Linked DNA regions of Homo sapiens: regions 2 and 3 are each linked to region 1. Evidence: fine-mapped expression QTL. A gene starts in region 1. Each other region holds a variant in brackets. All regions are shown on one strand. Distances are between the middles of the regions.

Region 1 (8,171 bases):
TCCATGTTGGTCAGGCTGGTCTTGAACTCCCAACCTCAGGTGATCCACTCACCTCGGCCTTCCAAAGTGCTAGGATTACAGGCGTGAGCCACCGTGCCCGGCCGAGACTTTCATTTCAGAGTAGCAATCGGTTGAGTGCCTTGGCTTGTGCCAGGCATGAATCTGTCAAAAATAAAATCAGATCAAGTTAAAATTTCAGGAGTTGATTGTGCATACAAAGGAAGAGTCTGTGAATCGGGAGATTACAAGATTGGCAAGAAGTCTGAATTGACAGCAGTTGTAGCACAAGAGGAAGTATTTTGACCCTTTACATGATTGGCTGATATATATTTTTTCAAAGGCAAATAGAGCTGCTTAAGCTGGTTTGTCTATGGCTGATTGGTTTAATTCTGTGGAATCATGCTAATAAGGGAAGAAAACTTATTCTTGTGCTTTGTTTATGTTTAGAGTTAGCATTTTGGAAAATCAGGTGCTAAAATTTTGGTTATGTGGCTATGGTGGTTGGTCTCGGAGTATCTAAACAATTGTTTCAGCTCTTTATCAATTCTAATGACTTTATTATATGCATTACCACCTTCTCCTCCTCTTCTTCATGCGGTTTTATTACCTTCTTTAATCCTCACGTCTGCCCTCTGAAATAGAAACTATTCCAGGCCAGGTGCGGTTGTTCACACCTGTAATCCCAGCACTTTGGGAGGCCAAGGCAGGTGGATCACTTGAGGCCAGAAGTTCAAGACCAGGCTGGCCAACATGGAGAAACCCTGTCTCTACTAAAAATACAAAAATTAGCCAGGCATGGTGGTGCATGCCTATAATCCCAGCTATCTGGGAGGCTGAGACACGAGAATTGCTTGAACCCAGGAGGCAGAGGCTGAAGTGAGCCGAGATCATGCCACTGCACTCCAGCCTGGGCAAGAGTGAGACTCTGTCTCAAAAAATAAATAAGTAAAATAAAGTATTCCAGTCATGTGCTACATAACATTTCAGCCAATGACGAACCACATACACGATGATGGTCCCGTGAGATTATAATATTGGCTGGGTGCAGGGGCTTAGGCCTGTAATCCCAGGACTTTGGAAGGTCAAGGCGGGAGGACCGCTTGAGGCCACAAGTTAGAGGCCAGCCTGGACAACATAGTGAGAATCTGTCTCCACAATAAATAAATAAATAAATAAATAAATAAAATTTTGTGTGTGTGTGTGTGTGTGTGTGTGTGTGTATATATATATATATTTTTTTTTTGAGACTGGATCTCACTCTGTCACCCAGGCTAGAGTGCAGTGGTGCGATCTCGGCTCACTGTAACCTCTGCCTCCCGGGTTCAAGCGAGTCTCCTGCCTCGGCCTTCCGAATAGCTGGGATTACAGGTGCGCCCCACCATGCCCAGCTAATTTTTGTATTTTTAGTAGAGACAGGGTTTTTCCATGTTGGTCAGGCTGGTCTCGAACTCCTGGCCTCAAGTGATCCACCCACCTCAGCCTCCCAAAGTGCTGGAATTACAGGCATGGGCCACTAGGCTGGCCAATACTGTGTTTATACTGTATCTGTGTTTAGATACGCAAATACTTACCATTGTGTTCAACTGTCTACAGTATTCAGTAAGGTAACATGCTGTAGAGGTTTGTAGTGTAGGAGCTATCAGCTATACCATATAGCCTAGGTGTATAGCAGGCTATCCCCATCTAGGTTTGTGTAAGTACACTCTGTGATCTCTGCACAATGACAAAATCGCTTAATGATGCATTTTTCAGAACGCATCCCTGTCATTAAGTGACTCATGACTGTATCTCTATTTCACAACTGAGGAAACTGAAACTCAGCGAAGTACATCACTTGCCCAAGGCCACACAGTGGGTAAATGGGACTAGGCATGGGATGCAGGCAGCCTGTCTTAGATCCCACGCTCGGATCCCATACCCTGCCTCCAGGGTCTCAGACTTTACGTTTTACTGAAAAGACAGCCTAATTCATGAGCAGCTGGATCTCAGAAAGGGAGCCAAGCTCCTTGGTACACAGATGGCCCAACCACGAATGGTATCTGAAGGGCTCAATAACAGGAGCCAGCCGGGTATCTTCTTCACCCTCTGGGGTGACCAAAGACACGAAGGACTGAGAGAAAGCCTTTAGAGGCCTCCCCCAAAATTTAATCCGTTTTTGTGATTGTTTCTCCTGGACTAGACTGCCTTGAGGATAAAATAAACATGAGCGCCTGGTGGCAGTGCAATACCTGAGTGGTACGTGGGCTCTGCAGGCCAACTGCCTGGAGGGAGGAAGCCCCATCACCACTACTTGTGTTTCTGTTCCCCATTTGCACCACACCCCTCCTTTGAGGGTAACTGAAGCCTCTGAGTTGTCAAGATCCTTAAAAGATGACAGTTTGAGAGAGAGAATAGTAGAATTAGAAACCCCAAGAGGCCAGGTGTGGTGGCTCACACCTGTAATCCCAGCACTTTGGGAGGCCGCGGACCCCGAGGTCAGGAGATCGAGATCATCCTGGCCAACATGGTGAAACTCGGTCTCTAATAAAAATAAAAAAAACTAGTTGGGTGTGGTGGCGCGCGCCTGTAGTCCCAGCTACTCAGGAGGCTGAGGCAGCAGAATCGCCTAAACCCGGGAGGTGGAGGTTGCCATGAGCCGAGATTGCACCACTGCACTCCAGCCTGGCGACAGAGCAAGACTCTGTCTCCAAAAAAGACAGAAAAAAAAAAAAAAAGAAACACCTTGGACAGGAAACATGTCTATGGGAGGAAGTAAGGCCAGATGCTTGCAAAATAGGGGGGAAAGTGAGACCGGGAGGGAACACTTCCAAAAGTTACCCCCATGGGGTCTGAATTTGGGGCCTGGGAAGGAATTTGGGTGCATTTAGATCCACCACTGATAGTCTCTATTTTGGCACCCTGTTTTGTTCCCGTATAGCACTTACCACTGTTCTAACTAAACAATTAATTTCATTATGGGTTGTGCAAAGTCTATGATTCTCATGCGGGACCCCAGGTGTGTTTTTTGTTCATGTAGCACAAAGCTCATTGCCTAAGTAGTAGGTAGGATTGGTAGATAAAATACAAGAAGTCCAGTTGTTTAAATTTTAATAAACAATGCATTTTTTTTTTTAGTATAAGTGGGTCCCATTTGCTTATCTGAAATTCAAATATAACTGGGCTTCTCCTATTTTATCTGCCAAATCTGACAACCCTGGTAGCAGGGACTTGATACATTTTTTTCCTTTTAGGGAGAATTTCTAAATCGACCAGTATTTATGGAAAATGCATAAGCGTTTTTTTGTTTTTTTTGTTTTTGCCTTGACTCTGCCCTACACTTGCGGTGCGACCCTTTGGCAAAATTCAGTCCCTTTCTATGCCTCAGTTTCCCCATCGGAAAAATGGGAGTTTGAACAGCGACCGAAGCGCAGGGATCGCCAGTGTGGGAGAGCGCCAGGTGAACTGTGAAGGAGCAGGGAGGGAGTTCGGGCCGTGCCCGTGCGGGACAACCCCGGTATCCACTCTGGGCACCGCCGGCGGCGACTCCCGCCAGCGCCTAGGGTGCCTCGGTCCCGCCCCTACGCAGCGGAGGCCGGCCAGAGGCCGTCGCCATGGAGACGCGAGCAGCCTGGCACCCACTCGCTCTCAAAGCCACGCGTTTCCGCTGCGTTGGAGCCTTCTCATTGGACGGCCGTCTGGACGCTACCACCCGCCCCGAGCCCGCTAAGGGGAGGGGGCGGGGCCTTATTCTCATGGGATTCGTTCCCTGGAGACCTGTGTCCGCGGCCTCTCTGGGAAAGCATGGGTCCTCTCCCTCACGCGGGGAAAAGGACTGCGTCTCTTAGGTCTGGAGAGTGTCCATTGCTTCTCCTACTAGAATTTATGCTCATGCTGCTCCCTGAGAAAAGAAGAGGGGGCGGGAAAGTCGGCCACGCCCCCTCCAGAGCCTATTTGGTCTCAGGAGCTAGAGCACCGGAAGTGCTGGCGACATGTCAGTGCGCCCTACCCTAAACCTTCCCCCCCCAGGCCACCTTTCCCATTCAGCTGTGGGATTCCGGGGCCGCCTGGGCGCTGCACCCGCCACTTCCGCATCGAACCGCCGCTTCAACCGAACTCACTCCCTCTGCGCGCGCTCCATCTGGTGCCCGACTGCTGGGCCGGCGCCTGGGAGAAGCCACGCCCTTTCCCGCGCCTGACAGCCAATGAGCGGGCGCCTCCCGGCGGGGTGGTGGGTAATTAATGAGGGCCGGGCGCTGATTGGCTGCAGCGTCGTGGCCGGGGGCAGGGCGGCGGGGTAGGTTGTTCCTGAGGTGGGAGGCGGTACCCGTGGCTGAGAAGAAGGAGGCCTGAGAGCGACATGTCCCCGGCGGCTCAGGCGGAGCGGCCCGTGGCGCTGTTTTTCTGAGTCCGGGGTGGCCTGGCAGCCGGCCGAGGACGAGGGTCGGCGGGGGCTGCCCCCGTGGTGGTGGCCGCCATGCTGGGAGCCTGGGCGGTTGAGGGAACCGCTGTGGCGCTCCTGCGACTGCTGCTGCTGCTGCTGCCGCCGGCGATCCGGGGACCCGGGCTCGGCGTGGCCGGCGTGGCCGGCGCGGCGGGGGCCGGGCTGCCCGAGAGCGTCATTTGGGCGGTCAACGCGGGTGGAGAGGCGCATGTGGACGTGCACGGGATCCACTTCCGCAAGGACCCTTTGGAAGGCCGGGTGGGCCGAGGTGAGAGTCCCCCTGCCGAGCCGCGGGATCCAGGGCCTGCTGTGCTGGGCGCAGCCGGCCGGGGGCTGCGGGCCCCGAGCCCCTTTCGACCCTGGGGCCGCGTCTCTGGAGCGAAGTTTCTCTCTGCAGCTTCTTCGGGGGCCCGCTCTGAGCTCAGGGCCTGGCACTGGCTCCAAGGTACCTAGAGTCATACAGGCAGAGAGTTGGCCAGAAGTTAGTTATATTTGGATTTCTCATCCTGCATTTTCTCAACCCCTCACTCCCATCCAAGCTGGGAGAGAAATGACGAAGGCGGCCTTTTGCTACCTCCAGGCCTCGCGGGTTGTAGGTCATGGGTGCCCCTGCTTCTCCTGTCGAGACAGTTCTTGGGAGATTCTCGTCGACCCAGGAATCGGCCGCTTTCCTTGCCCCTTCTGCAGGAGCGGGGCTTGATTCTTAGCCAGAATAGGAAGGAATCTTCGAAGAGAATGGGCCAGGAAAGTTTGATTGTAGCCTCCTCCCCCGCCCTCTTTTCGAGCGAAGAATATGTGTGCTTAAAAGTAGAATCGGCAGGCCGCCCCCAGAGGGTGGTTCTATCGAAGCCATCCTGCACGTGAGGCTGGTGGCTGTGTGTGAACTGGGTCAACCAGTGTAAGAATCCGAATGGTCTATCAGAGAATGCTTACAACCTCCCCTAGGTGATCCTGAGAGTTCTAATTCCAGCTTAGGGGGAAAATGATTGTGACTTAACTTGCTGGGCAACAGTGGTTTTTAACGGAGCTGCTCCCTTCCCAAAGTTAGTGTGTGTCAGAATTGCCAGGGCAGCTGGTTAAAAATGCAGATTCCTAGTCCCCACTCGAAATTGATTATAGTAGATTGAGCTTTTTTGCTGGGATCCAGGTTTCTGCACCAGGGGCTTGTGATGTAGGTTGCCCCGAGACCACCGTTTTGGAAGATCAGCTTTATAATCTTTGTTTCTTCTGTTGGAGGGATTGGAAAACAGGTTTCAGAAGGAAGTTCTTTGCTAGGAGATTGATACTGTATGCTGGGTTCAGAGGCTACCAAATTGGCAGTATGCCACCTCCAGACAACCAGGAGACAGACTCACTCTTCACTTTCTCTCATTCTTTTTCTGCGATGCCCAGATTTGGCTCTTGCTTTTACTAAAATAGTTAGTTCTTCCCAAGTCGATTGCAGTGTCCTGGAGTTTGTTATATTAAGGAGTTTATTGCCTTTCACACATGTGAGGGTCTTGGGACACAGGGCTGTTTTGTGAAGTTCTATGTTTGTCTTGGAGTTTGTTGAGCCCTGGCATGTAGATCACAGTAGCCTGGGTTCAGCTGACTCAGGGCTCCAGTCTTTAGCAGCGGTAACAGCAGCCAAAGCCAGACTTTATAGCAGGAGGTCATTACTATCTCTATCCTGGACCCTTCCTCTTTCTTCACGAGTGTGGGCAGGGAGGAAAGAGCCCTTGAGGAAACTAGACAGTTTGTGGACTTTGCCTCTTGAGATAGCGGTGGTGAGGGTGCTGAGCGGATGGTTTCTTTCACTTAGCAGATACCAGGCCTTACATTGGTTACATCGTCCTATTCAGTCTGTTGTGCAGAGAATAAAGCCGAGTAAGACCACACAGGTTTAGTTCCCAGATACTGCCCTTATTCAGAAATTCTGGTTTTAATTTGCTGATGCAGGTGGTGTGTGTGTGTGTGTGTGTGTGTGTGTGTTTCTTTGGCTTGGTCAGCAGTCAGCCAAGATCTGTGTCCTTGGGTTATTGGCTCATGGTTGCAGTTCCTTGGAAGGAGTTTATTGTAGCAGGTAAAATTACATGAGACCTACCAAAGCTTGTGTGTACTGGAGTCCTATTTCGGACACTGGCCCTTGGGGCATTGTATAAATGAAGGTTCCCTGCTAAGGTTCCCCTCTCCATTCTACCAATCTGGGTAAGAATTGGAGCAGTATTAAGGCATGGATGGGGAGTGGGAGGTGGCGCTTGTCAGCTGCAGTTTGGACCAGCTTGTTGCAACATTGCGCTTACCAGGTTCCTGAGAAAGGCATTTTGCTGGCTTTAGGTCGGGCTGAGATGCGCATAAGCTTGCACTCTCAGGAGGCAGCTCTCTACTAAGGAGTCAGTCCTACCAAGGGAAGTCCAGCTGTTCACACTGCCTTTCTTCTGGGCCTGTTTGGATAAGGGTGTGCCAGGTATTTGAAGACCCTTGCCTCGTGCAGCTATTTACACTGATTGCAGTAGGAACTGTATGCCTTATTTCTTTTCCCGCCTGCCTGTGATATTGTTTCCAGCATGCTGAGAAAAGTTGATTTTATGTTGAATGAATTCAGGTATTTGTTACCAAGTTAGTCCAGATAAGGGTTTGGCCTTCTTTTGAACTTGCTGTTTCTGTGTAGTTTCTTTGTAGTTCAACATTCTTGTAATTGTGAGTGGCCCAGGGCACCTAGTGGTTTATGCTTTCAAAAGCAGTTCAGAATATTTATTGAATTTCATTTCTGCCTTGAGGATAGCTAGTGCTTACAGCCTGGGAAAGGCTTTTTCAGCCTGTGTGCTTCCACAGATGGGAGCACCACTACAGAAAGTGGTTTAGAAGCGTTCACCTTGGGGTTTTGGTATGAGGCACATTCCAGGGTTTTTATTTATTTATTGAAAATTTTTAATTTTTTTTTTATTGTAGACACAGGGGTCTCACTATGTTGCCCAGGCTGGTCTTGAACTTCTGTCCTCAAGTGATCTTCCCACCTTGGCCTCCCAAACTGCTGGGATTACAGGCATGAACCATCACGCCTGACCATGTTCCAGATTTGTAACTTGGTCATTTTGAGTTCCTCTTCACTCTGACTAGGAAAAGACCTGGTTATTTGACCTGAGGGCACAGAATTTTGCTTGAGTTTAGGGAAGGCTATTTCCTCTTCAGAGAAAGATACCTGCTAAAGTCGCAGGTCCTCGAGAAACTTGCTTTACGTCTCTGAGCCTTGTTTTCCTTTTCAAAAAATCTCTCATGCTTTAGAAATTTCTGATAAGACTGTAAACTCTCCTGTCCAGAGTAGCTTGAAGTGTCTCTGTCACTTTTTTTTTCCTTGATGACCTTTTACATGGAATTAAAAATAGGGCAGAACATAGCTCCAGAGGGGAAAAAAGTTGGTTGGGGACCAGAGCCTATCAGGTTGCTAATGCTGTAACCTTAAGGAATACCCTTTCCTGGGCTGCCTTCCTTTCACCTGGGGAAGGATTTGGCTTTGGGGAGGTAAGAGCTTGAAACATGGGATGAGAGAGGAGTCACTGCTACCTCTGATTTGCTCAAAGCCATGGCAGTTGTTTAGAATTCTCTACCTCTACTGTCACCTAACAGGCAGGCTTCATCTGCAGGCCTTCCAAATAGTGGAAGTTCACAGGTAGAAAATTTAGGTCCCTGAATCCGTGGGTTCGCTGTCTCAGCCCATTCAGAACAATTCTTTAGGTACTGGCCTCACTGGAGAAAGAAGTGATCCAGAAGA
Region 2 (8,159 bases), 47 kb after region 1:
TGGTCTCCCTGTCTCTTTTTCAGGAGGCCCTTTAACGAGTGCACATTACCATGGTTATTGCTTTTGTCCCCACTTTTTTTCTAGAATGTTCCTGTAGCTGGCCACAGTTTGTTGCCTGAAATCTAGAGATAAATTTCAGAGTGAGAAGGCCTGGGAAACAGCCCCTGTCACCACTGATAAAATGGGGTGAGGTGACTGTGTCCAGGCTCTGGGATGGGATGGAGAAGGCTGTGCTCTTAGGTGCTGCCCCAGAGCGGTGCTCCTCTCTTTTGAAATTTGCTGTCTCAACACCAGAGTGGGAGTGAGTGGAACTGCCATGTCTTTCACAGCCACAGGTAGATGCTTTATTTTTTAAATTATTTTTGTGTGTGTGTGATGGAGTCTCGCTCTGTCCCCAGGCTGGAGTACAGTGGTGCGATCTCGGCTCACTGTAGCCTTTGCCTCCTGGGTTCAAGCAATTTTCCTGCCTCAGCCTCCCAAGTAGCTGGAACTACAGGTGCGCACCACCACACCCGGCTAATTTTTGTCTTTTTAGTAGAGACGGGGTTTCACCATGTTGGCCAGGCTGGTCTCGAACTCTTGACTTTGTTATCCGCCCGCCTGGGCCTCCCAAAGTTCTGGGATTACAGGCATGAGCCACCGCGCCCAGCTGGTAGATGCTGTAAAAGAAAATGCTGATGGTGAGAAAGGAGGGAAGACAGGAGCTGGGGGAAAATTGAGGGCGATGGTATATGCTAGTGAGGTCCTTTGGGTGTGGGAATTGTGAATTCCTACAACTTTTGATTCTAGCTCATTGAGAAGTGTCGCATTAGTCAGAGGGAGGCGGCGCTGTGTAGGGAGGAGGAGGCTGGGGTTCTGTCTTGCCTCCTGGTGGCCTAGACCTGGCCACTGACACCACATACCCTTTCTGTGTGAATTCCCTCATCTGTAAGAGGAATATGGGGTCACCCTCATTCTGCTACCTGTCGGGACGTGTGACCAAGCATTTTAGGTGAGTATGAGGAACTGAACGCACCTAGGAGAGTTTCATCCTTTTACTCTCTTTCTGGGAATTTGGGTTCCCACTGTGTTTCTGGGGATGAGATGGAGTTATGGAGCGATTGGCTCATGTGCCATTTATTCCAGGGTTTTATACCAACAAGTTCCGGGGTGAAAAGGAGGGTGTGTCTCTGTCCAGGGAGATCTGAAGGTGCTTGGAGGGTGAGGCGGCTTGAGCTAGTTTAGCCTTATTCTGTTTTGCTGGTAAGCTAGAGAAAAAGGCTTTTGGTGAGGTTCATGCCTAGGCCTGACCGTGAGTCTTGGACAACTGCATATTTATTTTTGTTTTTGTTTTTTTGAGACAGGGCCTCACTGTCGCCCAGGCTGGAGTGCAGTGACACAAACACAGCTCACTGCAGCCTTGACCTCCCGGGCTCAGGGCTCAAGTGATCCTCATGCCTCACCTCCTGCAGTAGCTGGGACCACAGGTGTGCACCGCCATGCCTGGCTCATTTATTTTTATTTTTATAACTTTTTGTGGAGATGGGGGTCTCGCCATGTTGATGAAGCTGGTCTCAAACGCCTGGACTCAGATGATCCTCCTACCTCCGTCTCCCAAAGTGCTGGGATTACAGGCCTGAGCTACCACACCCTCTTTTTAAAATTTTTTTAATTAAAAAATTTTCTTTTAGAAACAGGGGTATCATCATGTTGGCCAGGCTGGATTTGAACGCCTGGGCTCAAGTGATTCTCCTGCCTCAACCTCCTCCTGAGTAGCTGGAGACCTGCGTATTTCTAGCACTTGGTAGAGTATTGTCCAGCAGCAGAGGTGTTCCTTAATAAAATAGTTTTTTTTTTTTTTTTTGAGGCGGAGTCTCACTCTGTTGCCCAGGCTGGAGTATAGTGGCACGATCTTGGCTCACTGCAACCTCCACCTCCTGGGTACAAATGATTCTCCTGTCTCAGCCTCCCAAGTAGCTGGGATTATAGGCGCCCACCATCACGCCTGGCTAATTCTTGTATTTATTTTATTTTATTTTATTTTTTTTATTGATCATTCTTGGGTGTTTCTCGCAGAGGGGGATTTGGCAGGGTCATAGGACAATAGTGGAGGGAAGGTCAGCAGATAAACAAGTGAACAAAGGTCTCTGGTTTTCCTAGGCAGAGGACCCTGCGGCCTTCCGCAGTGTTTGTGTCCCTGGGTACTTGAGATTAGGGAGTGGTGATGACTCTTAAGGAGCATGCTGCCTTCAAGCATCTGTTTAACAAAGCACATCTTGCACCGCCCTTAATCCATTTAACCCTGAGTGGATACAGCACATGTTTCAGAGAGCACAGGGTTGGGGGTAAGGTCATAGATCAACAGCATCCCAAGGCAGAAGAATTTTTCTTAGTACAGAACGAAATGAAGTCTCCCATGTCTACTTCTTTCTACACAGACACAGCAACCATCCGATTTCTCAATCTTTTCCCCACCTTTCCCCCTTTTCTATTCCACAAAACTGCCATCGTCATCATGGCCTGTTCTCAATGAGCTGTTGGGTACACCTCCCAGACGGGGTGGTGGCCGGGCAGAGGGGCTCCTCACTTCCCAGTACGGGCGGCCGGGCAGAGGCGCCCCTCACCTCCCGGACGGGGCGGCTGGCCGGGCGGGGGCTGACCCCCACCTCCCTCCCGGACGGGGCGGCTGGCCGGGCGGGGGCTGCCCCCAACCTCCCTCCCGGACGGGGTGGCTGCCGGACGGGGTGGCTGCCGGGCGGAGACGCTCCTCACTTCCCAGACGGGGTGTCTGCTGGGCGGAGGGGCTCCTCACTTCTCAGACGGGGTGGCTGCCAGGCAGAGGGGCTCCTCACTTCTCAGATGGGGTGGCTGCCGGGCGGAGGGGCTCCTCACTTCTCGGGGCGGGCAGGCAGAGACACTCCTCACCTCCCAGACGGGGTGGCGGTCGGGCAGAGACACTCCTCAGTTCCCAGACGGGGTCGCGGCCGGGCAGAGGCGCTCCTCACATCCCAGACGGGGCAGTGGGGCAGAGGCGCTCCCCACATCTCAGACGATGGGCGGCCGGGCAGAGACGCTCCTCACTTCCTAGATGGGATGGCGGCCGGGAAGAGGCGCTCCTCACTTCCCAGACTGGGCAGCCGGGCAGAGGGGCTCCTCACATCCCAGACGATGGGCGGCCAGGCAGAGACGCTCCTCATTTCCCAGACGGGGTGGCGGCCGGGCAGAGACTGCAATCTCGGCACTTTGGGAGGCCAAGGCAGGCGGCTGGGAGGTGGAGGTTGTAGCGAGCTGAGATCAAGCCACTGCACTCCAGCCTGGGCAACATTGAGCACTGAGTGAACGAGACTCCGTCTGCAATCCCGGCACCTCGGGAGGCCAAGGCTGGCAGATCACTCCTGGTTAGGAGCTGGAGACCAGCCTGGCCAACACAGCGAAACCCCGTCTCCACCAAAAAAATACGAAAACCAGTCAGGCGTGGCGGCGCGCGCCTGCAATCGCAGGCACTCGGCAGGCTGAGGCAGGAGAATCAGGCAGGGAGGTTGCAGTGAGCAGAGATGGCGGCAGTACAGTCCAGCTTCGGCTCGGCATCAGAGGGAGACCGTGGAAAGAGAGGGAGAGGGAGACCGGGGGGAGAGGGAGAGGGAGAGGGAGAGGGAGAATCCTTGTATTTTTAGTAGAGACGGGGTTTTACCATGTTGGCCAGGCTGGTCTCGAACTCCTGACCTCAGGTGATCCACCTGCCTCAGCTACCAAAGTGCTGGGAATACAAGCATGAGCCACTGCGCCTGGCAAAGTACTCTGAAGTGTGGGCTAGAAAAGTGTTCTGTTCAGAGGCCATGTGTGTGCTGCCGCAGGTCTGTGTCTCCAGGTCCTCTTCCTAGTGAAAAGCACTCTCTCACTTGGACTTCCCCTTCCCTAGTTGGTTCCTGCCTGCTGAAATGGTGCCTGCTGAAATGGTGCCTGCTGAAATGGTGCCTGCTGAAATGGTGCCTGCTGAAATGGTGCCTATTCTGAGCAGGACCCCCCTCCCCAGGTGTGTGGCGGCCACAGAACAATCTTCTTTTTAGTAATTCTCAAAATGACACCTCCCTGGTAGCTCTGAGTTCCCATTTGTCACTGTGGATGAGTTTCCTATTGCTGCTGTAACAAATGACCACAAACCCTGTGGCTTAAAGCAATACAGATATATTCTCTGACCATTCAAGACCAGCCTGGGCAACATAGCAAGACCCCATCTCTACCAAAAAAAAAAAAAAAAAATAGAAAAAACAAAACCAAACCATGGCAGCCACTTGAGAAATGCTGTTCACGAGTTACTCAACCCGAGTCAGGCATCCAGTGTGGGTCCCACAGGGCTAAATCAAGGCATCGGCAGGACTGAGTTCCCTCTGCAGGCTCTGGGGAAATCCACTCCTGTCTTTCCCAGTTCTAGAGGCCGCCTGCATTCTTCCCGCCAGAGTTCCTGCCTCTGCTTCCGTCGTCACCTCTCCTTCTCTGAGTCTGTGTCTGTCTTTGCCTTACAAAGACTCTGTGATGACACTGGGTGACTCTGATCATCCAGAATAACCCTCACATCTCCAGACGCTTCACTTACGTGTGCAAAGTCCCTATTGCCACGGAAGGGAACATACTCCTGGGACCTGGGATTAGGATGGGGACATCTTGGGCGGTTGCTGTCATGCTGCCTTCCACACACTGGCCATCTCCTTCCCAGCTTCTCTGCCCTCTGACTGCAGCACAGCATCTGCCTGGGGGCCGCAGAGCTTGATGTGCACTTGTGGGGGTCATAGCTCAAGCCTCTCAGCACACACGTTTATGCCCCACATGTGGTACGTGTGGGAGACTCGGAGATGACGCTCCGCCCCGCACTTAGAGTCTTACAAGTGAGTTTCCCATGGGAACAGTTCAAGGAAGAATCAAATAAGCAATTTCACAGAGGGACACACAGGTTGTCACAGAAGTGCTGCAGGCTCCTAGGTGCCCCCTCTTTTCCATACGTTATTGCCAAAGTAAGAACTAGGCTTGGTGTGGTGGCTCGTGCCTCTAATCAGCATGAGGGAGGCTGAGGCAAGAGGATCACTCGAGCCAGGAGTTCGACACCAGCTTGGGCAACACAGTGACACCCTGTCTCTAAAAAAACAATA[A/ATT]TTTTTTTTTTTTTTTTGAGACAGATTCTCGCTCTGTCGCCCAGACTGGAGTGCAGTGGCGTGCTCTCGGTTCACTGCAACCTCTTCCTTCCAGGTTCAAGCAATTCTCCTGCCTCAGCCTCCCGAGTAGCTGGGATTACAGGCACCCGCCACCATGCCTGGCTAGTTTTTATATTTTTGGTAGAGATATGGTTTCACCACGTTGGCCAGGCTGGTCTCGAACTCCTGGCTTCAAATGATCCACCCATTTTGGCCTTCCAAAGTGCTGAGATTCTTTGGGAGGCTGAGGCAGGCGCATCACTTCAGGTCAGAAGTTCGAGAACAGCCTGGCTAATGTGGTGAAACCTGGTCTCTACCAAAAATATAAAAATTAGCCAGGTGTGGTGGCAGGCACCTGTAATCCCAGCTACTCGGGAGGCTGAGGCAGGAGAATCACTTGAACCCAGGAGGTGGAGGTTGCAGTGAGCCGAGACTGTGCCACTGCACTCCAGCCTGGGCAACAAAGTGAGACTCTGTTTCAAAAAAAAAAAAAAAAAAGAAAAAAGAAACAAACAAAGTGCTGGGATTACAGGTGTGAGTCACTGTGCGCAGTCCTTAAAAAAAAAAAAAAAAAAAAAAAAAACAACTTGGCAGCCACTTGATGATAGATGCTGTTCAACAGTACCTCAGCCTGGGCCAGGTGCTGGGCTCTGCCTTTCATGTGTATTATCTCAGTCAGGCCTCAGAACAGTCCTTTGAGGTGAGTACTGTTTTGGGGACGGGGAAGGTAAAACTTTTATATTCACAGGAGTATAGAAAAACAAGAATATATTAGCAAACATTCTTATTAGTTTATGTAAGTCATGGTAGTATAAGAACATGGTTGAGACTAGGTGTGGTGGCTCACACCTGTAATCCCAGCACTTTGGGAGGCCGAGGTGGGTGGATCACGAGGTCGGGAGTTCAAGACCAGCCTGGCCAAGATGGTGAAAACCCGTCTCTACTAAAAATACAAAAATTAGCTGGGCGTGATTATGGGCACCTGTAATCTCAGCTACTCGGTAGGCTGAGGCAGAGAATTGCTTGAACCTGGGAGGAAGAGGTTGCAGTGAGCCGAGATCTGCACTACTGCACTCCAGCCTGGGCAACAGAACAATACTCTGTCACAAAATAAAATAAAATAAAATAAAATAAAATAACATGTTTGCAGGAATGAGATTGTATAAAAGGGCTCGTGAAAAGCAACGGTTCCCTCCCGTCCCCATCCCTGTCCCCGTCCCTGTCCCTGTCCCCGTCCCTGTCCCTGTCCCTGCTCTCCCAGAGATAAGTGGTTTTACTTGTTCCTTTTTGAAGTTAGGTAGATTCTGTGGTCCACATTTCCCATATTACTCACCTGAAAGTAATAATACTATTATTATTATTTTGTTTTTGGTAGAGATGGGGTCTTGCTATGTTGCCCAGACTGGTCTCGAACTCCTGGCCTCAAGCAATCCCCTCACCTTGGTCTCCCAAAGTGCTGGGATTACAGGTGTGATCACTGCTCCTGGCCCACTCTTAATATGATTATTACCCAGAATTAAGAGTCCCAAGCTCTTATCCTTCATTCATTCTCTCACTGGCCTTGGGCATGTAGCAGTGAGCAAGAGCACACACAGTCTGTGCCCTCGTGGTGAAGGCAAAAGACCTTAATCCAGAGAAGCACGTTCATCCCTGAGAAATTCCAGCCGCAGAAGTGCTGCAGGAGAGGGACTGAAGGATTTGACTCAGCGAGGCTGGGGATGGCAGCCCAAAGCAGCGAGGCCTGAGCTGCGATCAGAAGGAGAGGAGGGGCAATAACCAGCTGAGGGATAGGAGGTGGCATGTGCAGAGGCCCTGTGGTGGGGAGGGTGCGTGTGTGTGGATGTGCAGAGGGGGCTGGACGAAGGTCAGTGTGGCTCACGCTGTCCTGCTCCTTACCTCTGAGTTCCCTGAAAGCATCCTGTGCCTTCTGCTTGCTCGCTGCCGTGGCTGTGGACGGAGCGGGGAGCAGGCGTGGAGGCGGGGGCAGGACAGCTTGAATGAGAAGTGCCATCATATAGACCTCAGTGGGACTGGGTCTTCAGCTTCTGGACTTGGGGATCCCTTGTGCGTGGCTGGGGTCACATGGCCTGAGTTTCTGCAGGGCACTGCCTCGGGGGCAGGAGGGTTTGGGCTTGGGGAGGGTGGGCTCGCCCCCGGCAGCTGCCCATGGCGTGCCGTCCTTCCCTGTGCCCAGGTGAAGAAGATGGGCGGGCTTGGGCTTCTGGCCATGGACGTGCCCGAGGAGCTTGGCGGTGCTGGCCTCGATTACCTGGCCTACGCCATCGCCATGGAGGAGATCAGCCGTGGCTGCGCCTCCACCGGAGTCATCATGAGTGTCAACAACGTGAGCCCCCTCCCAGGCCCCTGGGACACACGGGTGGAGGGAGGCTCCCGTGAGCGGGCAGGCTCTGGCCTCGGCTCCCAGCCCTGATCTCTCTGGAGACGTCACAGGCCTTGGTCCTACTGGGTAGGCCCTGGACAGAACAGGCCCTGAGGTGCAGCCCGCAGGTGGGCAGGATGCGCCTGGGCCTGGGGCCTCCGACCGCTCCCCGCTGTCCTCCTAGTCTCTCTACCTGGGGCCCATCTTGAAGTTTGGCTCCAAGGAGCAGAAGCAGGCGTGGGTCACGCCTTTCACCAGTGGTGACAAAATTGGCTGCTTTGCCCTCAGCGAACCAGGTACCTGCCCTGTCCCCTCACCTGTCCTTAGGGTGACAGGCCCAGAGGGGAGGAGAGGAAGGTGCTAGGCCAACTGCCCACTGCTTCGGAGGCCAGAGGGGAGGCTCCCCGTGTGGTTGGTAGGGTGAGCGCTCTTGCCACCGCGGCGCTGGGAGGAAGATTGCCTTCGGGGTCCCCTGGTTTAAGACGCCAGCTCCTGCACACCCCCCTCGCCCTCTGGTCCCATCACTGAGAGCTTTGGGACCCTCATCTTTGGAGCCCGAGTCATAGGGTTTCGTGTCTGCCAGCAGGGGTGTGGAGGGAGTGAGGCTGGTGCCCTTA
Region 3 (8,179 bases), 220 kb after region 1:
CGTGACGCAGTCATTCTGAGTTTCAAAGGGGCACAGAGTGAGGCTTTAGGTCCCATGGGAAAGGCCAGAAGCCGTTGGAAGTGGCTTTGGGTGATGCAGAAGCTTTTTCTTTGGAGAGCTAAGAACAAAACAGACCAGACATGTCACTTTTGAAACGAAAATGCCACACTGAGCCTCTGGGCGATTCACTTGGGCTTTGGTTCCCAGTGAGTCATAGAAGTCAAAGCCAAGTGGAAAGTTGGTGTTGGATGAATGAAACGGGAGCTGCTAGAGTAGGAAAGTCAAGGCCTTCCCAGAAGCAAAGGGACCATTCTTTTCAGTGGGAAAAATCTGGTGGAAGAAAGGAGGGAGAAGGGGTTTGGTGAAGGTATGGTGAATGAGGAGAGGTTTTCTTCTCTCTATCTGAACCAGAGACCTCCGAAGTGTTTCTTGAGGAAATGTGGCTGCAGACCCTAGAAGAAGCTACACAGCACTTGCCAGGGCTGGGATGATGTCCAGGCCATGGAAACACCGTGTACCTGGTCCCAGGAAGATGAAGTGTGGGCCCAGAGACTAATGGCTTGAGCATCTCAGGCTAAGGTTGCCGAGAAGTAGACAGCACCTCTAGATCCTAGTCAACATCTCTACAGGCTTGAAGTCTCCCCAGAGGGCAAGGTTGGAATAAATCTGAAGCCTGTGGCTTGCCTGGGAGCTGCCCAGACTGTGGCATCTGGGGAGTGACTTTTTAATTTTAATTTTATTTTGAGACAGAGTCTTGCTCTGTCACACGGCTGGAGTGCAGTGGCGCAATCTCAGCTCACTGAAACCTCCACCTCCTGGGTTCAAGCCATTCTACTGACTCAGCCTCCCAAGCAGCTCGGATTACAGGCACCCACCACCATGCCCAGCTATTTTTCGTATTTTTAGTAGAGACGGGGTTTCACCATGTTGGCCAGGATGGTCTCGAACTCCTGAGCTCAGGCAATCTGCCCACCTTGGTCTCCCAAAGTGCTAGGATTATAGGCGTCAGCCACCGCACCCGACTGGGAGTGACTTTTAGTCTCCCTGCCAGCAGCACTCAGCTCCAAGCTATAGCAGCCCCAGGTGTATCTGTGACACCTTTGGGCCTCAGCCAGGGAGTCAGGTGTGCTTCACAAGAGACTCAGGCATTAGGCTCCCCCAGGAGGGGTGCTTTGTCTCTCTGCACCCCACTGCAGGTGAGAGCGCTACAGCTTGTGCAATATTTGCTGAAAGAAGCCATGGAGGCTGGGTGCGGTGGCTCATGCCTGTAATCCCAGCACACTGGGAGGCCTAGGCGGGCAGATCACCTGAGGTCGGGAGTTCAAGACCAGCCTGGCCAACATGGAGAAACCCCATCCCTACTAAAAATACAAAAATTAGCCGGGTGGTAGTGGCACATGCCTGCAATCCCAGCTACTCGGGAGGCTGAGGCAGGAGAATCGCTTGAACCCGGGAGGCGGAGGTTGCGGTGAGCCGAGATCGTGCCACTGCACTCCAGCCTGAGCAACAAGAGCGAAACTCCGAAACGCCGTCTCAAAAAAAAAAAAAGAAAGAAAGAGGCCATGCAGGTGCCTCTAATTATCACCACAGTAATTATAGGATAGCTTCTTCCACCAAGTGTGTTCAAAAGAGACTTGGGGAGTCTCCCCCAGGATGGGTCCTCTGCTTTAGGCACAGACTCCAGGAAGCTGGCATTACAAGGTCTGTCTGGGCTGCTTAAGCATTGTTTCTGAGAACATCAAGGCTTAGGTCTGACCTGGCTCTACCAGTCCCTCCAGGCCATTTCTCCCCTCTGTCATCCACCCCTCGCCCCCACACACATGCATGTGCACTTTGTTTATATTCCATAGTGACCTGCTTGTAGCTTCCCCACGGGCTGTGTTCTTTTTTGCTTCCAATCCTCTGATCAAGTCCAGGAGGTTTCCCATTGGGTCTTTCTTTTTTTTTTTTTTTTTAGACAAAGTATCACTCTGTCGCCGAGGCTGGTGTGCAGTGGCGCCATCTCAGCTCACTGCAACTTTCGCCTCCTGGGTTCAAGTGATTCTCCTGCTTCAGCCTCCCGAGTAGCTGGGATTACAGTTGCCCACCACTACCATGCCCAGCTAATTTTTTTTTGTATTTTTAGTGGAGACGACTTTGGCCATGTTGGCCAGGCTGGTCTCAAACTCCTGATCTCAAGTGATCCACCCATCTTTGCCTCCCAAAGCGCTGGAATTACAGGTGTGGGCCGCAGCGCCCGGCCTCCCATTGCCTCTTAACTGCTGCTTATAGTTTTCGGGGCTTGACTGCAATGTCACATCCTCCAGGAAATCTCACTTGACCAAAACCTAGGCTGGGTTAGATACTTCTCTGCATTCTCATTGTCCTCTGAATTTACCCACATGACACTTGGCATAATGAACTGTCATCGACTGTTTACTTGTCAGTTTCTCCCTTAGCTTGTGAATGCTTCTTGGGAAGGGATTGTAACTGGCTGCCAGTTATATCCTGTGTGCCCAGCAGAGAGATTAGCCCAGAATAGAAGCTCAGTGTCTGTAGAATGAATGTTTGAGTGAAGGGGAAGGCAAGCCAGGATCCAGAACAACTTGTTTTGCCTGATGTCATACTCAACACCCACTTCTGTCCTCTGTAACTCCCTCCTTGACTAAGAGTGAGAGTTCTTAAGGGGAGAGAGATACGGGAAGACAGATCAGAAGTAAGGTATATGGTGAGCTTATCAGACACAGGGTCACTTGCATTCTTTGAACATGGGTTTTCAGAAAACGTTTTTTAGAGAAGTTTCAGGCTTACAGAAAAATTGATGGGAAAGTACAGAGAGTTCCCATATAGGCCTCTCCCTCCAGTAAATCTCCCCTATTAATCACATGGTATATTAGTGTAAGTACATTTGTTACAGTTGATGAGCCAATAATGAGATTAGGTTTTACTCTTCATGTTGTATAGTCTACGGGCTTTGACAAATACACTATGGTATGTAACCACCATTATAATGTCATACGGAATAGTTTCACAGCCCCAGAAATCTCCCACCCTCTGCCTATTCATCCCTCCCTCCCCATCAAATTCTGGCAACCACGGATCTTTTTACTGTCTGCATAGTTTTGCCTATTCCAGAATGTCCTATCATTGGAATCATACAGCGTGTAGCCTTTTCAGGCTGGCTTTTCACGTAGCAGTATACTTTTGATATTTTTCCATGTCTTTTCGTGGCTTGATAGCTCATTTCTTTTTATTGCTGAATAATATTCCATTGTATGAATGTACCAGAGTTCGTTTATCCCTTCACCTATTGAAGGACACTTTGGTTGCTTCCAACTTTTGGCAAGTATGAATAAAGCAGCTCTCAAGGTTTGTGTGCAGGTTTCATGTGGACATGTTTTCAATTTATTTGGGTATACCATGGATACTATGTATTTTTTGGAAGAATCTTGTTTAATTTCCAAATACTTGGGGCTTTCCTGGATATCTTCTTTGTTGTTGATGTTAATTGAATTCTGTTGTGGTCAGAGAATATATTCTGTAAGATTTCAGTCTTCTGAAGCTTATTGGAACTTGTTTATAGCCAACATATGGTTTATTGCAGTGACTATTCCAGGTGCACTTTAGAAGAATTCTATTATTTCGGGGTGCGGTGTTCTATAATAGTCAACTAATTCAAGGTGGCTGATAATGTTGTTCAGATATTCTATGTCCTTACTGATTTTTTTGTCTAGCAGCTCAATTATTTAGAGATAAGTAAATTTCTAATTATGAATTTACTTCTTCATTTAATTATATCAATTTTTCCTTTATGTATTTGGAACTATGATTAGGTTGATACTTAAAATTGTTATATCTTCTTAATGAAGTGCCCCTTTTATCATTATGAAATACCTGTCTTATGTTCTTAGTTTTGAAGTCTACTTTATCTGATATTAATATAGCTTTCTTATGATGTGTGTTTTTATTTTAGATCATTTTTCCAACCTTTTACTGTCAACCTCAGTGTGGGTTTGTATTTAAAGTATGTGCCAGCTGGGCGTGGTGGCTCATGCCTGTAATCCCAGCACTTTGGGAGGCCAAGGC[G/A]GGTGGATCACGAGGTCAGGAGATGGAGACCACCCTGGCTAACATGGTGAAACCCCTTCTCTACTAAAAAAATACAAAAAAAAAATTAGCCAGGCGTGGCCGGTGACTGTAGTCACCGGTACTCAGGAGGCTGAGGCAGGAGAATGGTGTGAACAAGGGAGAAGGAGCTTGCAGTGAGCCAAGATCGCGCCACTGCACTCCACCCTGGGAGACAGAGCGAGACTCCGTCTCAAAAAAAAAAAAAAAATAATAATAATAAAGTATGTGCCGGCTGGGCGTGGTGGCTCACGCCTGTAAACCTAGCAGTTTGGGAGGCTGAGGCGGGCGGATTGTCTGAGCTCAGGAGTTCAAGACCAGCCTGGGCAACACGGTGAAACCCCGTCTCTACTAAAACACACAAAAAAATTAGCCAGGTGTGGTGGCGCATGCCTGTAGTCCCAGCTACTCGGGAAGCTGAAGCAGGAGAATTGCTTGAACCTGGGAGGCAGAGGTTGCAGTGAGCCCAGATCACGCCACTGCACTCAGCCTGGGCAACAGAGTGAGACTCTATGAAAAAATAAAACAAAAATAAGTAAATAAATTTATGTGCCTTAGGCCAGGCGCGATGGCTCATACCTGTAATCCCAGCACTTTGGGAGGCCAAGGAGGCAGATCACCTGAGGTCAGGAGTTCGAGACCAGCCTGGCCAATGTGGTGAAACTCTGTCTCTACAAAAATACAAAAATTAGCCGGGGGTAGTGGCATGCACCTGTAATCCCAGCTACTAGGAAGGCGGAGGCAGGAGAATCGCTTGAATGCAGGAAGTGGAGGTTGCAGTGAGCCAAAATGGTGCCACTGCACTCCAGCCTGGGCAACAGAGTGAGACTGTCTAAAAAAAATAAATAAATAAAACTTTTTAAAAAGTATGTGCCTCGTAGATAGCATATGCTTATATATTCTTCTTTGCTCTGCCTGACCATTTCTTTTTCTTTCTTTCTTTCTTTCGTTTTTTTTTTTCAAGACAGAGTCTCACTCTGTCCCCCAGGCTGGAGTACAGTGGTGCAATCTCAGCTCACTCCAATTTCTACCTCCCGGGTTCAAGCCACTCTCCTGCCTCAGCCACATGAGTAGCTGGAATTACAGGCGCCTGCCACCACGCCCGGGTAATTTTTGTACTTTTAGTAGAGACAGGGTTTCTCCATGTTGGCCAGGCTGGTCTTGAACTTCTGACCTCAGGTGATCCACCTTCCTCAGCCTCAGCCTCAGCCTCCCAAAGTACTGAGATTACAGGCATAAGCCACAGTGCCCGGCTCCTGCCTAACCATTTCTGTGTTTTAATTAGAATATTTATTTCATTTACATTTGATGTAATTGTTGATGTGTTTAGGTTTGGTTCTGCCATTTTGCTATTTGTTTTCTACTCATTCCATCTTTTTTGTTGTTGTTCCTCTGTTTCTCCTTTCCTACCTTCTTTTGAGTTAACTGAGTAATTTTTTATGATTATATTTTAATATCTCTACTGGCTTTTTTCTTTTTTGAGACAGAGTCTTGCTCTTGTTGCCCAGGCTGGAGTGCAGTGGTGCAATCTCGGCTCTCTGTAACCTCTGCCTGCTGGGTTCCAGAAGTTCTCCTTCCTCAGCCCCCTGAGTAGCTGGGATTACAGGCACACGCTGCCACACCCAGCTAATCTTTTGTATTTTAGTAGAGATGGGTTTTCACCATGTTGCTCAGGCTGGTCTCAAACTCCTGAGTTCAGGCAGTCCACCTGCCTTGGCCTCCCAAAGTGCTGGGATTACAGGTGTGAGCCACTGCCCCCGGCTTTACTGGCTTTTTTAAAGCTGTACCCTCGTTAAATTGTAGTCGAAGTGGCTGCTGTAGTGAGTGTGAATCTCATGAGCTTTAACTTATCACAATCTACTTAAAATTGTTATTATTATTATTATTTTATTTTATTTTATTTTTTTTGAGAAAGAGTCTTCCTCTGTCGCCCAGGCTGGAGTGCCATGGCACGATCTTGGCTCACTGCAAGCTCCACCTTCCAGGTTCAAGCGATTCTCCTGCCTCAGCTTCCCGAGTAGCTGGGACTACAGGTGCCCACCACCACCCCTGGCTAATTTTTTGTATTTTTAGTATAGCCAGGATGGTCTCGGTCTCTTGATCTCGTGATCCGCCCGCCTCGGCCTCCCAAAGTGCTGGGATTACAGGCGTGAGCCACCGCGCCCGGCCTATTTATTATTATTATTATTATTATTATTATTATTATTATTATCATGTTTGAGCTGGAGTCTCACCCTGTCACCCAGGCTGGAGGGCAGTGGTTCCATCTCGGTTCACTACAACCTCCGCCTCCTGGGTTCAAGTGATTCTCATGCCTCAGGCTTCCAAGTAGCTGGGATTATAGGCACGTACCACCACGCCCAGCTAATTTTTGTATTTTTAGTAGAGACAGGGTTTCACCATGTCGGCCAGGCTGGTCTTGAACTCTTGACCTCAAGTGATCCATCCATGTCGGCTTCCCAAAGTGTTGGGATTATGGAAGTGAGCCAGTGCGTCCAGCCCACAATCTACTTAAAATTAATATTGTACTATTTCCCATAAAATGTAGGAACTTTGCACAATATCGTTCCATTTATTTCCATGTCCACCCTCTTTTGTTGTTCTTATTATATAAATGACATCTGTTATAAACCCCACAATACAATGTCATAACTTTAGCTCTTAAATAGCCACATCTGTCAGTGTGCCTATATGATTAAAAAAAAAAAAAAAAAAAAAGGAAGGCCCAGGTACGGTGGCTCACACCTGTAATCCCAGCACTTTGGGAGGCCCAGGCGGGTGGATCACGAGGTCAGGAGTTCAAGACCAGCCTGACCAACATGGTGAAACCCCATCTCTACTAATAATAGAAAAATTAGCTGGGCATGGTGGCACGTGCCTGTAATCCTAGCTACTCAGGAGGCTGAGGCAGGAGAATTGCTTGAACCGGGACCCGGGAGGTGGAGGTAGCAGTGAGCCAAGATCGCACCACTGCACTCCAGCCTGGGTCCAGCCTGGGCTACAGAGCAAGACTCTGTCTCAAAAAAAAAAAAAAAAAAAAAAAAAGGGACGCAACCACGGCGGAAGAACAACTGCCAGTCTAACTGTGCGTGAAGGCTGGCAGTGATGGGGCCGAGACTGGGAACCGCCCCTTCTCCCTGAGACTGTTCATAGTGCTGTGGGTCACAGGAGTCACCTTCAACGTTACCACCATTGACACCAAGAGACAGACTGAGAGAGTGCAGAAGCTGTGCCCAGGAGGGCAGCTCCCATTCCTGCTGCATGGCACTGAAGTGCACACAGACACCAACAAGATGGTGGAATTTCTGGAGGCAGTACTGTGCCCTCCGAGATACCCCAAGCTGGCAGCTCTGAACCCTGAGTCCAACACAGCTGGGCTGGACATATTTGCCAAATTTTCTGCCTACATCAAGAATTCAAACCCAGCACTCAATGATAATCTGCAGAAGGGACTCCTGGAAGCCCTGAAGGTTTTAGACAATTACTTAACATCCCCCCTCCCAAAAGAAGTAGATGAAACCAGTGCTGAAGATGAGGGCATCTCGCAGAGGAAGTTTCTGAATGGCAATGAGCTCACCCTGGCTGACTGCAACCTGTTGCCAAAGCTACACATAGTACAGGTGGTGTGTAAGAAGTACCGGGGATTTAACATCCCTGAGGCCTTCCCGGGAACGCGTCAGCACTTGAGCAATGCTTATGCATGGGAAGAACCCGTCTCCACCTGCCCAGATGATGAAGAGATCCAGCTCGCCTATGAGCAAGGGGCCAATGCCCTCAAATAAGCCCCTCCTGGGACTCCCTCAACCCCCTCCATTTTCTCCACAAAAGCCCTGGTGGTTTCCATATTGCAACCCAATGGACACACTCCAAAATGGCCAGTGGACAGGGAATCCTGGAAGACTTGTTCTGGGATGGTGTGGGGAAGAGGGGATGAGGGAAATAAATGGGGGGCTGGGTGAGATTTTTATTGTGGGGTGGGATGGGCAGGACAACATATTTCAGTAATAAAATAGAGAAAAAAATGAAAAAATAAATAAACAGCCGCATCTGTTAAAGAAATAAAGAAAAAATGTAAATA

Alleles and levels. Alleles are on the strand shown, and positions count from the first base shown. SD is a standard deviation of normalised expression in the study named. Not every link is listed here.
For the expression in subcutaneous fat of the gene that starts at base 4,306 in region 1, allele ATT in region 2 goes with a higher level than allele A (moderate effect, 0.66 SD a copy in TwinsUK).

The links. PIP is the estimated chance that this variant, and not a neighbour inherited with it, causes the effect.
Region 2: its variant is fine-mapped to the expression of MLEC in subcutaneous fat (TwinsUK, PIP 0.95).
Region 3: its variant is fine-mapped to the expression of MLEC in whole blood (INTERVAL, PIP above 0.99).

What each region holds. Positions count from the first base shown.
Region 1 is chr12:120,682,844-120,691,014 of GRCh38, forward strand. It overlaps MLEC (malectin), which reads left to right and starts at 4,306. Exons shown (of 5, transcript NM_014730.4): 1 at 4,306-4,688. The coding sequence starts at 4,454. It overlaps LOC105370029 (a long non-coding RNA gene), which reads right to left and starts at 4,306. Exons shown (of 3, transcript XR_945449.3): 1 at 4,011-4,306; 2 at 53-162. RefSeq lists silencers at 2,221-2,310, 3,425-3,524, 4,365-4,664 and enhancers at 3,685-3,794, 3,885-4,014, 4,109-4,610.
Region 2 is chr12:120,729,630-120,737,788 of GRCh38, forward strand. ACADS (acyl-CoA dehydrogenase short chain) reads left to right here. Exons shown (of 10, transcript NM_000017.4): 3 at 7,357-7,506; 4 at 7,727-7,838. Among named protein-coding and RNA genes, the nearest start is that of ACADS, 7.9 kb to the left of the region's middle. The variant A/ATT (reference allele first, on the strand shown) is at 5,124.
Region 3 is chr12:120,907,244-120,915,422 of GRCh38, forward strand. XLOC_009911 (a long non-coding RNA gene) reads left to right here. Exons shown (of 2, transcript NR_131215.1): 2 at 412-831. It also overlaps the pseudogene CLIC1P1. Among named protein-coding and RNA genes, the nearest start is that of XLOC_009911, 6.6 kb to the left of the region's middle. RefSeq lists an enhancer at 2,803-2,922. The variant G/A (reference allele first, on the strand shown) is at 4,066.